Homo sapiens: one gene and its partner. The protein of the gene in region 2 interacts with the protein of the main gene of each other region in a pairwise test. Each region holds a gene or a part of one and is shown on either strand. Other genes may lie near its edges.

Region 1 (7,915 bases), 1.8 Mb from region 2:
GCAAGAATATTACAAACTATCTGCCAATAATTGTGAAAACAGACAAAATTGACACATTTCTAGAAAAACAAAAAAAGACAAAATTGGCAAAATATTTTAACAAATCAAAAAGTATTAATATTTAAATAGTAATTGAAGATGCCCCCCCACTCCACCCCACCCCACCCCACCAGAGTCTCAAACTCAGTTTTATAAGAAAGTACTGTACTAAAAAATGTCAAGGAACAGATAAGTTTATTTTTATTTATTTATTTACTATATATATATTTTTTGAGATAGGGTCTCACTCTGTCACCCAGGCTGGAGTGCCCTGACATGATCTTGGCTCACTGCAACCTCCACCTCCCGGGTTCAAGCGATTCTCCCACCTCATCCTCCTAAGTAGCTGGGATTATAGGCGTGTGCCACCACACCTGGCTACATTTTTGTATTTTTGTAGAGACAGGGTTTCACCATGTTGGCCAGGCTGATCTTGAGCTCCTGACCTCAAGTGATCCCCCCACCTCGGCCTCCCAAAGTGCTGGGATTACAGGTGTGAGCCACCACACCCAGCCCAGAACAAATAATCTTTACCTGAAGAGTTGTTGCAGAAAATGGTAAAAGGAAAAAGACTTTTCTTCGCTTTATATGAACAGTGTAACCATGATTCAGTAAATTATAGTCCTATTTGGTTTATGAGTTTTAATGCAAAAATCTTAAATGAAATATTAACTTACCAAATTCCACAGTTTATGAAAAATAATAAAATATTATCAAGTGAAGCAATGCAAGGATGAAATGATATCAACAATTTTATTAAGGTAACTTACCTTTATAATGGAGTGAAGACAAAAGGAATGTGACTATCTCAATAGATTAGAGATAGAAAAAAATCACAATAAATGTCAAAATATTTCTAGTAAAAATTATAAAATAGCCTTTAACAAGGCTACAACAAACATAATGTTTAAATAAAGAAAATTTCTAAGCATTCCCTGTAATACTGGGAACAGTGTAAGAATACTCACTATCATGACTATGAACTGTTTAATGTATACAGGAGGCCCTAACCAATGGGTAAACATAAAAAATAAATGAGCATAGGTATTGCAAGGAAAGAGAAAATAAAATGTTATTATTTATAGCTGACAAAATCATTTACATAGAAAACACAATAGAATCAACAGGTAAACTAGTAGATCTAATGAGAGGGTTAACATTTCACCAACACCATATCCTATTAGAAATGTAATAAAACATAAGATATCATTTACAGCAACTAGAAATAGGAATTAATCTAACAGAATATACAAGACTTCAGTTGGGAAAATTTATGACTCCATGAAAGGGCAAAAAAGATGACCCAAGAACATGGATGTGGCATGTTTATGCATGGGAAAACATCACAAGAACGTCAGTTCTCTCCTATTTACAAATTTGTTGCAAGTTCATTAAAAATTCCAAAAAGAGGTTTTAAGCAATTTCACGTATTTATTATAAAATGTATATAGAAGAATCAAGGTCCATGAATACCTAAGCCAGTTTTGAAAAGTAAAAGAGGACATTTGTCCTACCTACCAGACCCAGGGAATAGTAGCCATAAATTGCTGTGACCCCAAATCTCACAATGCTCCACACTTTGGGGCTCCAGCCACAGTGTCTGTTCATCTGTTCATATTACCTCTAAGTCGAGAGCTCCTCTCTTTTAAAACTCTGAAGATAAGTCCAGTGGGGTGAAATACATTACTACAATTTGATGATAGGTAAGAGAAAGGGCATAGAATTTGGTATATTTCAAACTGACCAGGTCCTAATTCACATTTTGAACTAGCAGAAAAATTCAGCAAATCAATTTCAGTAAACCTTAAAAACCAATTCAACAAACCTCCCTCAGCAATGTGCTTCCAGTCAGTTTCTATGAACTAGGCACAGCTCTGGGCAGCACAAATTTCTACACACTGTGGAAGATACAAGGGAGACCCAACCGTGCTTTGATGGCACTTAGAACCTAGTTGGGAACAGAAATCACACATAGAATATTTTAGAAATCTCCACATACATCACTGTACAGAACCACATTCATGCTGTTGAAATGACTGATGCATAAGTGGAATTAAGCAAAACCAGGGAGAAAGTGTGGCTGGGGCAATGCTCACCAGGAAGTTTAAGATTAGAAAGAACCAGGAGGAGAGTAGCCCAGGCTGGAGGGAGAAGGGTGCACATGGGGGTCCAGCAGGTACAGAGAAGGTGCTGATCTGTATGCATCTCCATCACTCCCGATCCCTCACCTTCACCTGACACAAGCAGGCTCAACAGAGAGACTGGGGCAATGTTTATCATCCCACCCAACCACAGAGACAAAGAAACTAAGACCTGGAGATGGGCAGAAACGTGTTCAAAGTCACACAGCCACAGGACTGGAACTCAGGGCTTCAAACTCACAGACAAGTGTGCCCCTCCTCTGTATAAAGCTGCCCCTCTGACTGCATGGTCCAAAGGAGGGTGTCAACCATGATGTAGGGTGGTACCTTTAACAAGTCAAAGGGAAAATGTTCAGGCTGTCCCATTCCAAGAAAGAAGAGTGAAACTGGAGAGGGTTTTGAAATTGCTCCTGGTATATGTCTGGGAGGCGGGGATGTGGAGAGTGACCTCTGGTGCTGGTGGGCAGAACATCTTCAGTTACACAACCAGGAGAGTCTGAATTGTCCACTAGAGTTTGGTGCTCTGGACCTATGCCTGCAGAAGTGGGTCATCAGTGAGAACTGTTACTCATCTCTTCAACTTGCTTTGTCCGGCAGCCTTATCTTCAAGGCAAGACATCCACATAATCGCTGTTACTGTTCTTTGGAGGGAAAAAAAAAGCAGAAGACCAGCCATGAGACCACACCCAGAAGTCATATCAAACAACCCCACTCAAAGGAAAGAAGACCCCTCCCCAGGCACAGAGCCATGTTGATGCCACCTGAAAGTTGTATCTTTAAAGGCTGGGGTACTACAGGGAGCCCTCCTAACAAAATAGGAGATCTCTTTATAAGCCAAGCCTCAGACCTTCCAGCACAAGTGTCTCCATTCACCAGCAAGAAATCTGCACCTCCCTTGGAGTAAGAACATCTGAAGCTTCTTCTAAGGAAGCAATGGGAATGGGAGGAAGAGGTTGATGGGGAATATTTCCTCTTCAGTAGCTGAGAATTTTGGAGCCTGCTGTGTCAGCACTGACCCGGCATGGAAAACTGATGGAGTGAGATTCATGCCCAGGTCTTGGGGAAGATTTCTGAGGGTTCTCCTCCTGGGATTTATGATTCTTTTCTCATTGTTGAGACAAATGCTACCACCACCCCAACCAGTCCCAGCAACTCATCTGGGTTTGCCTAAGGGCTGCAGCACAGATACATTCCTGGGTTTCTAGATCTGCCACACTGTATACTTTTTATTCTATAAATTTGGGGGGGAAAGTAGCTGTGGGACTACATCTGCAGCTGGACCTATAGAAAGTGATTTTTTTGTGTCCATGAGTACACACTGCCCTTCATGGGGATGGGGGGACAGGGACACAATGGTAGGGAAGGGAGTTGTATTTTATGCTTAGCCTTGCTGGGGAAATGAGAAGCCGGCTATGGCAGCCTAAAGGGTGACTTTGCCGCAGACAGAGTAGAATGGGGATGGAGTGATTGCAGGCTCCCAGAGAACTCTCTGTCCTCTGTCCCTCTCCTAGGGAGGATATCTGATCTCATCCCATCACCTGCCACTGATAACTGCCATCCCTTTCACTGAGAATATAACCACACATTCCAACATGGGAAAACAGGATTAAGACCTAAGTGTTTCTGGAAGTCTGAGCTAAATTCAAACAACATTGCAACTGATAGTAAATTCTTTACTGAGAGCAGATTTCAAGAGTGTGGGTAAGGAAGAGTAGCTGCTCATGATATAATTTGAGAGGCTTAGGCAGGGATTCTCTGCACTCAGATTTACTGACCATCTCTCATTTTCCACTACGGCTTAATGCCTTTAAAAATGTATCTGACATAATTTGACACCCAGCACTTTATAAATGAATGCTTAGCAAATATTGAGCAAAGTGTAACAGTATACGCTTTGGGGAGGGCTTGAAGGGCTAGAGTGATTTTCTCATTTGAAAATCTGCCCATTTGCCCATTTATTCTCAAACTTGAATCGTCTGCACAAGGTCACAGAATGAATTTGAAGTCAGCTGTCTGCCCAGGAACCACTCTTGCTATCCTGGCTGCAAACGCAGCAAGCTCTCTGTCTTGGCCCTCAGGGACTAAAAGACAGCACTTCTCAACAAAATGGAAATTGCTCTTAGTAGGATGAAGCTTTTTAGAGATAATGTCACAGAAAAGAGCATTTGTCTGTATTGAGTTTACAAAGTAAGGCATTGGTGGAAATAGGATTAAGATTGCTTTCTGACCCCCACGTGAGAGATTTTACCACAAATGTTTCCAACTCTAATTTCAATCCTCTCCATCTCAAGCTGGGGCTGGTTCTCTTTATTGGCTTTAAAAGGTGAACCACCATCCCCTGATTTGGTTTTTCAAATTTGGAGATCAGTTCCTTTAGGCTTGGAAAGACCTGTTTTGGAGAACCTTCTGCAGTCTGCAAAAATACAAGAAAGGAAATCACTCATTATCATGCAATTGCGTGTGAAATGTGACACTTCTCAAAGCAGTGGGTTTTCAGGGCTGCCCTTCTATGAGCTGAAAAACTGAAAACAAGTGGCTGGAGCTCACACCACTCCCAGTTCACAGAAACTCTCATTTCTAAGACCAACCTCTGACTTGAGCCACTCTGAGTAAAGAGGATTTGCAATCAAGGGATCCCAGCGCAGTCCATAGTATCAAGTGAACCCCATCCTTGGGAAGTTTACCTGGGGCAGTTCTCGCAGATACACTGTGAAGGGTACCCCTGTAAGGGCTTACGTCTGTACCTACAGGCGGGCTTTGCTATCTTAAGGGACTATCGGAAGTGGACTTCTGATGGGAATGCAAAAATGCAATTAAAAAAAATTCCAACTGTTATTTTAAGTTCAGGGGTACATGTGCAGGATGTACAGGTTTGTTACATAGGTAAACGTGTGCCGTAGTGGTTTGCTGCACAGACCATCCCATCACCCAGGTATCAAGCCCAGCATTCACTAGCTATTCTTCCTGATCCTCTCCCTCCTCCCACCCTGAGCCCTCCAACAGGCCCCTGTGTGTGTTGTTCTCCTCTGTGTGTCCATGTGTTCTTATCATTCAGCTCCCACTTACAAGTGAGAACATGCAGTATTTGGTTTTCTGTTCCTGCATTAGTTTGCTAAACATAATGGCCTCCAGCTCCATCCATGTCCCTGCAAAGGACATGATTTCATTCTTTTTTGACCTAAGCTCCTTTCTGATCCCCATGTGAGAGATTTTACCATAAATGCTTCCAACTCTAATTTCGATCCTCTCCATCTCAAGCTGGGGCTGGTTCTCTTTATTGGCTTTAAAAGGTGAACCACCAGCCTCTGATTTGGTTTTTCAAATTTGGAGAACAGTTAGGCTGCTTAGTATTCCATGGTGTATATGTACCACATTTTATTTATCCAGTCTATCACTGATGGGCATTTAGGTTGATTCCATGTCTTTAAAATATGCATTTTGTATACTTTATGAATTTAAAATACACAATTTGTATACTTGATGAATTCACAATCTCCATGTGGGCAAAACAAAACCAAAAAAGTCCCAATGTAAATAGAAAGTGGGAATGGCAACACAACTCAGTTAAGTTGTAAATAGATGTTTTCTGTTTACCAGCTATACACCACGTACTTTTTTTTTTTTTTTTTTTTTTTGAGACGGAGTCTCACTCTGTGGCCCAGGCTGGAGTGCAGTGGTGTGATCTCAGCTCACTGCAAGTTCCGCCTCCCGGGTTCATGCCATTCTCCTGCCTCAGCCTCCCAAGTAGCCGGGATTACAAGCACCATCACCATACCTGGCTAATTTTTTTTTTTTTTTTTTTTGTATTTTTAGTAGAGATGGGGTTTCACTGTGTTAGCCAGGATGGTCTCGATCTCCTGACCTCATGATCTGCCTGCCTCAGCCTCCCAAAGTACTGGGATTACAGGCGGGAGCCACCATGCCTGGCCCACCAAGCACTATTTTCTAATATAACCTTTTAGAAATAATTTTAAAATGAAAAGAATTTTCTGGCTAGGCTCAGTGGCTCATGCCTGTAATCCCAGCCCTTTGGGAGGCCAAGGTGGGTGGATCACTTGAGGTCAGGAGTTTGAGACCAGCCTGGTCAACATGGCAAAACTCCGTCTCTACTAAAAATACAAAAAATTAGCTGGGCATGGTAGCAGACGCCTGTAATCCCAGCTACTCGGGAGGTTGAGCCAGGAGAATCGCTTGAACCAGGACGCGGAAGTTGCAGTGAGCCGAGATCACGCCACTGCACTCCAGTCTGGGTGACAGCAAGACTCTGTCTTACACACCCACACACACATGAATTTTCTTCCTCTACTTTTGTGTATTTGGTTTTCTTGATCGTCACTGTGGTTTTCATATGGCCACCAAGTCAGACTAGAGAAAGGGGTTGGTGATCAGAAGGTTTTCTGATATGCGCCTGATTAACCTCTGTATTAGAGGTACAGGCTGACATCAAAGTCATCTGCAAGGAGGTTCCTTTAATGCAGTCATTTCAACAAAAGGCATCACTGCAGGCTTCTAAGCTCAAAGCTGCTCCCCAGTGAAACGCCTCTTTGTGTCTGAGTTACAAATGATTTGGATGTCTCCCTCTATTTTGTCCACACAAGAGACAAAACAGGGTACTGAGGAATTATCCAGAATTTCCCAAAGAATAAACAGAAAAAAAAGTCTTAAAATAAGTTGCTTTTTATAAGACATTTTATCTTGAAATTATTTCAGACATAGCAAAGTTGCAAAAATAATTTTTAAAAATTACCATATATTTCACCCACACCCCAATGTTAACATTTTATTATATTTGCTTTTTATTCTCTTTCCAAATATATACACATATATTGTGCATGTATATATACACATATATATAAGCTATTTTCAAAGTTAATTTGCAGACATAATATCCCTTTAAATACTTCAGTATTTCTTCAAAAGTAAGGATATTACATAACCATACTACAATGATTAAAATCAGGAAATTAACCTGGATACAGTACTATTTGTTAATCTTATTCAAAATTTGAATTTATTCAAATTTTGTCAACTGCCTCAATAATGTCCTCTATAGCAAAAGAAAAATAGTATAAGTGAGGTGTTTGGGGATCATTTTATATTCTAGTCTCTTTCAGATATTCAGAGTAAACATTAATATACTGAAGATTCTTAGAAATCTGTAGTCTCCTTAACCTTATATGTAAGTGTTTGAGAAAGATTATTTTAGGATTCTCTGTTAGCAGTTATGTTTATTATACTCTACTTCTTAAGCCAGAGAACTAAATTTAAAAGAAGCAAAATGTTTTTCTGCTTAGCTCTCAGTAAACCAGAAAAATTAAACAAACCCTAAGACTTTCAGCTATCTGATGCTTCCCACTATATTTTCGTACAACTATTGGGCACACTTGACTCCCTAAACACTCTGACCTCTTTCCACCGTCCCTTTCTAGCTCCATCTTGCATCATTGTTGAGTCTTCTAATTCAACGGAGGTTTTGCTTGGAGTCCAGGCTGGTGTGTTTGGCCAGTGGAGGAGCCACAGTGGAATAACAGTGAGGGTTATTCAAAAGTAGAACCCAGCTGGGTGCGGTGGCTCACGCCTGTAATCCCAGCAGTCTGGGAGGCTGAGGCCGGCGGATCACAAGGTCAGGAGATCGAGACCATCCTGTCTAACACGGCGAAAACCCTTCTCTACTGAAAATACAAAAATTAGCTGGGGGTGGTGGCGCGCGCCTGTAGTCCCAGCTACTTGGGGGG
Region 2 (8,260 bases):
GTTGGGGTCCAGTTACCCATAGTGAGCCCACTCATTTCTTAGAATTTTAGGTCTCAACTGCTGAAATGCCCATGACCATGTTTAACATCCAACAAGACATCAACATCATGCTGATATTGGACTTTTATTTGTTTAAAGAAACTAATTCAAATCACATTTGAATAATATTAAAGTGAACGGTATTTGAAATATGTCTGGAGATGGTTGTTTGCTTGGGTATTCTGCCTCACTGCCCTGCCTAAACTTCCGTTATTGGCAAGGACCTGCCAACAGCTCCTTCCTCCTCTGTGGGTGGGTATAGAGAAAGGCACAGATTCTATCCGAATAATCCTGTCTTGACAGAAATAAATAAATCATCACTCTTTACTGACATATTCCCAAACATTAATAGTAGGGAGAGTAATTTACTCCACTTCAGCATCAATGTGGGTGGAGGCAGCATGACTCAGAGGTGAAGTCTAAGGACTCTGAAGCTTAAATTCTACTTCTTTCACTTTTTGGTTAAGTGGCCTTTGACTCTCTGTGTATCAATGCTTTCATCTGTATATGTGCACATAAACCGTATCTATCTCATAGTGTATTGTAAGGATTAAACAAAATAATAACTGTAGACTACTTAGAGTAATGCTGAATATGCAGTGATTGCTCCATAAATGGTTACTTATTACTATTATTGATGGGAGATAAGACAGGGAGTTGAAGAAATAGAAATACGAATGGGGCAGAGAAAAGGAAGAATTAAGAGTATGAGACAGTATATGTAGAGGGGGTGGGCAAGGATTAAAACTGGTGGACTCCTTCATCTCCTACCCTCAGAGTGGGAGTGTCTCCCAGGGTATGTGGAGAGACAGTCAGAGTCATGGTGTTTCCAAAGTCATGATCAGAAAGTTGGCATCAGAGCATAAGACTGTGAATTTTGACTCAGAGAAAACTTTTCCAACATGGAACAGTCATAAGTTTGCACACTCAGACTTTCCTTATGTCGGTGATTTCTGAGGGGAAATGGGGATTTCTCCCTGCATCTCTCCACTGCTTCTCAGCCTCTTCAACTGCTCTGAATTCCAGGGAAATGTGTAAAGTGTAGACTCCTAAGCCCAATACTGAATGTAAGGGACTACCTCTACCAGGAACAGCAGCAGGAGGAATTCATGGTATATTTTTGTGCTCAGAAAAGGTTTGCAGAATAATCCTTAAGAGGCAAACAGATAATTCAGTAAAGGTGGACAGTATGTAAAAAGTACTCCTGGCTTCACTTTTATAAAAACAAGCTCCCATTCCCCTTTCATGGATCCTTGATGAAATGAATATCTCACTCCTAGTTTCCTTTTCCAGAACCCAGACAACCAACACCTAAGCTCAAACTCCCACCACCTTTTCTCCTGTTTATGTTCCTTGGACAATTCCCTGACAGAGGAGTCCTGCCCAGGATCTCTGTGTGGTAAAGCCATGGCTCTTCCTAATAATGAATGAAAAGCGAGTGTGAAAAATAGTAGCATTAGCTGATATCTGTTAAACACTTACTATATTCAGGTACCATGGCAAGTGTTGTACATGCATTATCATCATTTTGATTCTCAAAACAATTCTACTGTATTAATACCTCCCCATTTTGAAGCTGAAACAAGAGTCAGAGGAGGAATGTAACTTCGTCTAGGTCACAAAACTTGTAAACAATTCACTACTAGCTGATTTGACAACTTTATTTCAGTTTCAGTAGATGAAAGAAGTGTATCCTAGAGCTACCTTTTATCTTAGCAGGTATTAACCTTTTGAAGAGCATCAAAAATTTGAAAGCAATGAGTGAAGAGGTCAGGTGGAGCAGAAAGAAGAACCAATGGGATTGGGATTAACCTTGGAATTAGAAAAACCAATGTCTATTTCCAGCTCTACCAATTTAGGTAGTGAAATTTCAGGTGAATTTTTAAACCCCTAAATCTTAATTTATTATTTTTCTTGCATAATGGGATTAATAACGTCTATCTTGCTCATCTCAATGGTTTTCATATGGATGACATAAGAATGTAGGCATAAACATTGTAGAATGTTTTGCAAATTAAGTGGTATCAAATGCTACCTTGTCTGGTCTCTCTCTGGAAGATTAGGGACATCCCTAGTACCATTCCTCATCTACTTGCATTTTCTGTCTGCCATTCTAGAGCGACCAGCAGAGGCTCCAAAAATTTGGTCTGACTAGTGGTTACAATCTCCATGAAGTTCAAATTAAAGGAGCCATAGCTTGAAATGGCCAAAGAAACCAGAGAGATCACAGTGCATTGATTCTACCTTTACAGAAAATCCAAACGTACTAGGTTCCCAGGGTTCTAACTCATGCCAGAATTCTGCTAGTGCATTTTCAGAACTGGCAAGAGATACTAGAAGTAGATCTAGAAGTTCCAAACATAGTAAATTTCTGTTAGAGCAATTGTTTGTATTTAAGGAGATAACATGTACAATGACACAGCACTCCCAGATCTATGTTAATGTTACAATTTTCTTTGTACAAATAACAATCAATATTCATGTCGTTCTTTTAGTTTACTGTTATGCCATAAGTAAGAAAAATAGGGTTTTTAATTCAAGTTCTCCAACTCTTTTTTGAGACTATTTGTAAAAAATGGGATAGTAATCTCTTCCTCATTTATTTTAGAGTTTGTTGAGGATAAAAGCAGAGTAATAGCTCTGTGTTTTGAAAATAAAGGGAGTTTATAGAGATGAGGCTCAACAATGATAACGATGAGTCATCCATCACTCTAACCTGATAGAACAATCAACTATAATTAGGAAAGACATTTTTCTCTCTCAAACGCCATCACAATTGAATGCCAAGAAGAAATTGCTTGTAAGTCATTCAAGCTTTTAGAAGATCTTTCTTTTGCCAGGCTTTTTGGGTGGGTTTACCAAGTGCTGATTCCTCTGAGAAGGATTTGCCTCAGACCTTTGGAAACTGAGATCTCCAGATCTCAGAAATATAACTCAGTAATATAAACTTTAAAGCTGAACCTAAACACTTAGGTTTGAATTTTAAGTCTCTCCCCAGCCAGTTGGATCCTGTTGAGTACAGTAGATACTGAGACCCAGGGTGTTCTGCTAAACACAGATCAAAAAGACAGTTCAATGTCTTCCTTAAGGGCAATTTTTAAAACTTTATGGAAAACTAGGAGGCGATCAGCAAGGGTCAGAACTCACAGGTTTGCAGGCAAAGGAGCAAGATCCATAGGTGGTGCTGAGCCATCTCTTTCAGGGTCTAACCTTCTGTGGAAAAGCACGGCACTGTTCTAGCAGAGTCAGTTTCACTTGAGTTTTCTTCCTCCTTTTTATAACGACATTTAAGAAAGGAAGTGCATGTTAACTGATTTAGTTAACATTGGTCTTTGTATTACTGTGCTAGTTTTTTCCAATTTAAAGTGCCTAGCATTAATTATTTATTCAACACATATTTATTGTGTGCCTACTATGTGCCAGGCCCTCTTCTGGGTGCTGGCAATATACAGAGCAACAAAACAATTGATCACCCTCCTTTCATGGCATTTATACTCTTTTTTGGAGTAATCAACAACTCTATAAGCAGTTCCAATTTAATGTAGTAAGCATTGCAATAGGAAAAATACAGGGAACTATGAGAGGAATAGGGGCATCTAACTCAGGCTAAGAAAAGTTGGAGTAGGCTTCCTAAAGAAACTGACAACCAACCTGAGACAGGCTCAAAGAATGAATTACCATTATTAGGCGAATGGCGGTGGGGGATATGAAAGAGGAAAAATGTTTTGACATATGGTAGGAGCTTAAAAAAACATAGCAATTAAAATTACATAATTATAGTTATATAAAATGATCACAAGTACATGATTATGTATTATAATGTATAATCAACATGTGATATTATTTAACATAATCAATATTAAGTATTATATTAATAATATATAATTATATTTATATATGATACAATAATATATAATTATATAATATATTAATATATAATATAGTATAACTACATACATATAATTATGTATAATTCCATGATATCATCATGAAACATTATGATTATGATCACACCTTATTAGGGACACAAAAAGTGTTTGATAAAAATGAAGTCAAAAGGGATTTTTAGACTATTGAATCTATTTTGCAGATGGAGAAACTGGCTCAGAAGGAGAGGAAGTGACTTTTCCCTATATCACACAGTGAATTAGGGAACTGAGTTAAAAGCCAGCAGTGTCACTTGGCAAAGACTGTGACTCCTGGGCATGAGAGACAGCAGGTGCAGAGGCAGGCTTAGGTGGAGTTGAGCTAGATGTAACAGGACTATTTCTTGTAGAGGGTCTTCATCTTGGTTAACAAGAATAAGAGTGATTGTGTAATGTGTGTATGGGAGATGTTGTCTGGGAATGGGGATAGAAATGAATATTTAAGTTTGACTCAGCTGTTTTGGGGAGTAATGAGAAGGCTGGGGACACTACCCCTGAGACCTGGAGGAGCTTTTTTTTAACTGAGACGAGTCCTCATGCTAGCTAGCTCATTCCTAGGTAACCTGGCCTCTAGAGTCACACATTAAATAATCCTGCTGATCATTTCCCATATATACTTACATAATACTGAATATAGTTGACCCTTGAACAATGCAGGGGTTTGGAGTGCTGTCCCCTCAACCAGTCGAAAATCCATGCATAACTTTTGACACCCCTAAACTCAACTACTAATAGCCTACTGTTGACAGGAAGCCTTACCAACAACACAGTTGATTAACACATATTCTATGTGTCATATACATTGTTTACCATATTCTTGCAGGAAAGTAAGCTAGAGAAAATAAAATGGTATTAAGAAAATCATGATGAAGACAAAATATATTTACTGTTCATTAAGTGGAATTAGATCATCATAAAGGTCTTTATCCTCATCATCTTCATGTTAAGTAGGCTAAGGAGGAGGAGGATAAGGAGGAGTTGGTCTTGCTGTCTCAGGGGTCCCTGGGGAAGAAGAGATAGAGGAGGTTGAAGGGAAGGTGGAAGAGACAGGCACAGTCGGTGTAACTTTTCAGAAGTATATTTAATTTTTGTCTGACTTTTTTGCTTGTTCATTTCTCTAAAAATATTTCTATATGGTACCCCTTCTTACTTCTACCATTTGTTTTAGTTTTAGTGCCTGTATCATACCATAGATGGGCCCATATCATAAAAGAAGTCAAAAGCGGTCCCGAATAGTCAGAAGCCTTCTGTCAGACTGTCTAATGTCAGCTTGTTTTCTGGCACTGCTGCTTCTATGTTTTCTTCCGCATTGTTTGATCCTGGCTTAGATGCATTCTTCTCCATCAAGTCATCTTCCATTAATTCCTCTGGTGTGGTGTCTATTAGCTCTTGAATTTTGCCAAGATTTATTTCTTGAAACCTTTTACCCCAACTTTTTTTTTTGCCATATCCACAATATCTTTCATAATTTCCTTGATTAGCTCTGTCATAAATCCTGTGAAGTCACGCACAACATTTGGACACAGTTTCCTCAAGCAGAGTTTATTGTCTCAGGCTTAATGGCTTTCACCACTTTTTCTGCAACAATGATAGCATCTTTAATGGTGTAATCTTTCTAGACTTTCATGATGGCCCTCTCCTGGGGTTGTCTTCCTAGGCATTGACAATTCTTTCCATAGAGTACGTATATAATGAGCCTTAAAGGTCCTTATGACCCCCTGTTCTAGAGGCTGAATTAGAAACATGTCTGGGGAGAAGTATACCATTTCAGTGCCTTTGCTGTTGAACTCCTGGGGCTCTGGGTGGCCAGGGGCACTGTCCAATATCAAAATAACTTTAAAACGCAGTCCCTTACTGGCAAGGTATTTCCTGACTTCAATGACAGGGTATTGATGAAACCAATGCAGGAAAAATGTTCTTGTTGTTCAGGCCTTCTTGTGGTACAATTAAAACACTGGCTGCTGGTGTTTATCTTTTCCCTTCAAGGCTCAAGGGTTAGCAGACTTATAGATAAGGGCAGTTGTGATCATAAACTCAACTGCATTTGCACAAAACAGTAGAGTTATTGATTTCTCTCAGTTCCTGTATATTTTTGTTTATGGTGATATGTAATTTACTGGAGAGATGAATTTCTTATGTGGAAATGGTATTACAAGATTTTTTTTAATACTGTGTATTTTATTTTACGTTTATGTAACTTAATTTTTTTATTATTCTACTTTAAGTTCTGGATTACATGTGCAGAACGTGCAGTTTTGTTACATAGGTATACACGTGCCATGGTTGTTTGCTGCACCCATCCACCCGTCACCTACATTAGGTATTTCTCCTAATGCTATCCTTCCTCTAGCCCCCCCCATCCCCCACAGGCCCCAGTGTGTGATGTTCTCCTCCCTGTGTCCATGTGTTCTCATTGTTCAACTCCCACTTATCAGTGAGAACATGAGTTGTTTGGTTTTCTGATCTTGTGATAGTTTGCTGAGAATGATGGTTTCCAGCTTCATCCATGTCCCCGCAAAGGACATGAACTCATCCTTTTTTATGTCTGCATAGTATTCCATGGTGTATATGTGCCACATTTTCTTAATCCAGTCTATCATTGATGGACATTTGTCCAAGTCTTTGCTATTGTGAATAGTGCTGCAAATAAATAAATAAATAAATATGTGTGCATGTGTCTTTATCGTAGATTGATTTATAATCCTTTGGATATATGCCCAGTAATGGGATTGCTGGGTCGAATGGTATTTCTAGTTCTAGATCCTTTAGGAATTGCCACACTGTCTTCCACAATGGTTGAACTAATTTACACTCCCACCAACAGTGTAAAAGTGTTCCTATTTTTCCACAACCTCTCCAGCATCTGTTGTTTCCTGACATTTTAATGATTGCCATTCTAACTGGCATGAGATGGTCTCATTGTGGTTTTCATTTGCATTTCTCTAATGACCAGTGATGATAAGCATTTTTTCATACATCTCTTGGCTGCGTAAATGTCTTCTTTTGAAAAGTGTCTGTTCATATCCTTTGCCCATTTTTTGATGGGGTTGTTGCCTTTTTTCTTGTAAATTTCTTTCAGTTCTTTGTAGCTTCTGGATATTAGCCCTTTGTCAGATGGACAGATTGCAAAAATCTTCTCCCATTCTGTAGGTTGCCTGTTCACTCTGATGATGATGATAGTTTCTTTCGCTGTGCAGAAGCTCTTTAGTTTAATTAGATCCCATTTGTCAATTTTAACTTTTTTTGCCATTGTTTTTGGTGTTTTAGACATGAAGCCTTTTCCCATGCCTATGTCCTGAATGGTATTGTCTAGGTTTTCTTCTAGGATTTTTATGGTCCTAGGTCTTATGTTTAAGTCTTTGATCAATCTTCAGTTGATTTTTGTATAATGTGTAAGGAAGGGGTCCAGTTTCAGTTTTCTGCATATGGCCAGCCAGCTTTCCCAACACCATTTATTAAATAGGGAATCCTTTCCCCATTTCTTGTGTGTGTCAGGTTTGTCAAAGATCAGATGGCAGTAAATGTGTGGTGTTATTTCTGAGGCCTCTGTTCTGTTCCATTGGTCTATATATCTGTTTTGATACCAGTGCCATGCTGTTTTGGTTACTGTAGACTTGTAGTATAGTTTGAAGTCAGGTAGCATGATGCCTCCAGCTTTGTTCTTCTTGCCCAGGATTTTCTTGACTATGTGGGCTTTTTTTTGGTTCCATATGAAGTTTAAAATAGTTTTTTCCAATTCTGTGAAGAAAGTCAGTGGTAGCTGGATGGGGAGAGCATTGAATCTATAAATTACTTTGGGCAGTAAGGCCATTTTCATGATACTGATTCTTCCTATCCATGAGCATGCAAGGTTTTTCCATTTGTTTGTGTCCTCTTTTATTTCCTTGAGCAGTGGTTTTTGAAGAGGTCCTTCATATCCCTTGTAAGTTGTATTCCTAGGTATTTTATTCTCTTTGTAGCAATTGTGAATGAGAGTTCACTCATGATTTGGCTCTCTGTTGTCTGTTATTGGTGTATAGGAATGCTTGTCATTTTCGCACATTGATTTTGTATCCTGAGACTTTGCTGAAGTTGCTTATCAGCTTAAGGAGGTTTTGGGCTGAGACAATGAGGTTTCCTAAATATACAATCATGTCATCTGCAAACAGAGACAATTTGACTTCCTCTCTTCCTATCTGAATACCCTGTATTTCTTTCTCTTGCCTGATTGCCCTGGCCAGAACTTCCAATACTATGTTGAATAGGAGTGGTAAGAGAGGGCATCCTTGCCTTGTGCTGGTTTTCAAAGGGAATGC

Evidence for each region. Proteins that work in one complex are often made in the same cells at the same time.
Region 1: the proteins of CD84 (region 2) and SH2D1B interact in binary tests that used the Homo sapiens proteins (3 or more experiments, as listed by UniProt).

What each region holds. Positions count from the first base shown.
Region 1 is NC_000001.11:162,394,495-162,402,409, forward strand, and holds the end of SH2D1B (SH2 domain-containing protein 1B), read right to left. Parts: intron 4,594-7,915; coding exon 4,429-4,593; intron 2,822-4,428; coding exon 2,786-2,821; 3' UTR 774-2,785; downstream 1-773. UniProt on the Homo sapiens protein: Cytoplasmic adapter regulating receptors of the signaling lymphocytic activation molecule (SLAM) family such as CD84, SLAMF1, LY9 and CD244. In SLAM signaling seems to cooperate with SH2D1A/SAP.
Region 2 is NC_000001.11:160,576,206-160,584,465, forward strand, and holds the start of CD84 (SLAM family member 5 isoform 2 precursor), read right to left. Parts: upstream 3,292-8,260; 5' UTR 3,233-3,291; coding exon 3,187-3,232; intron 1-3,186. UniProt on the Homo sapiens protein: Self-ligand receptor of the signaling lymphocytic activation molecule (SLAM) family.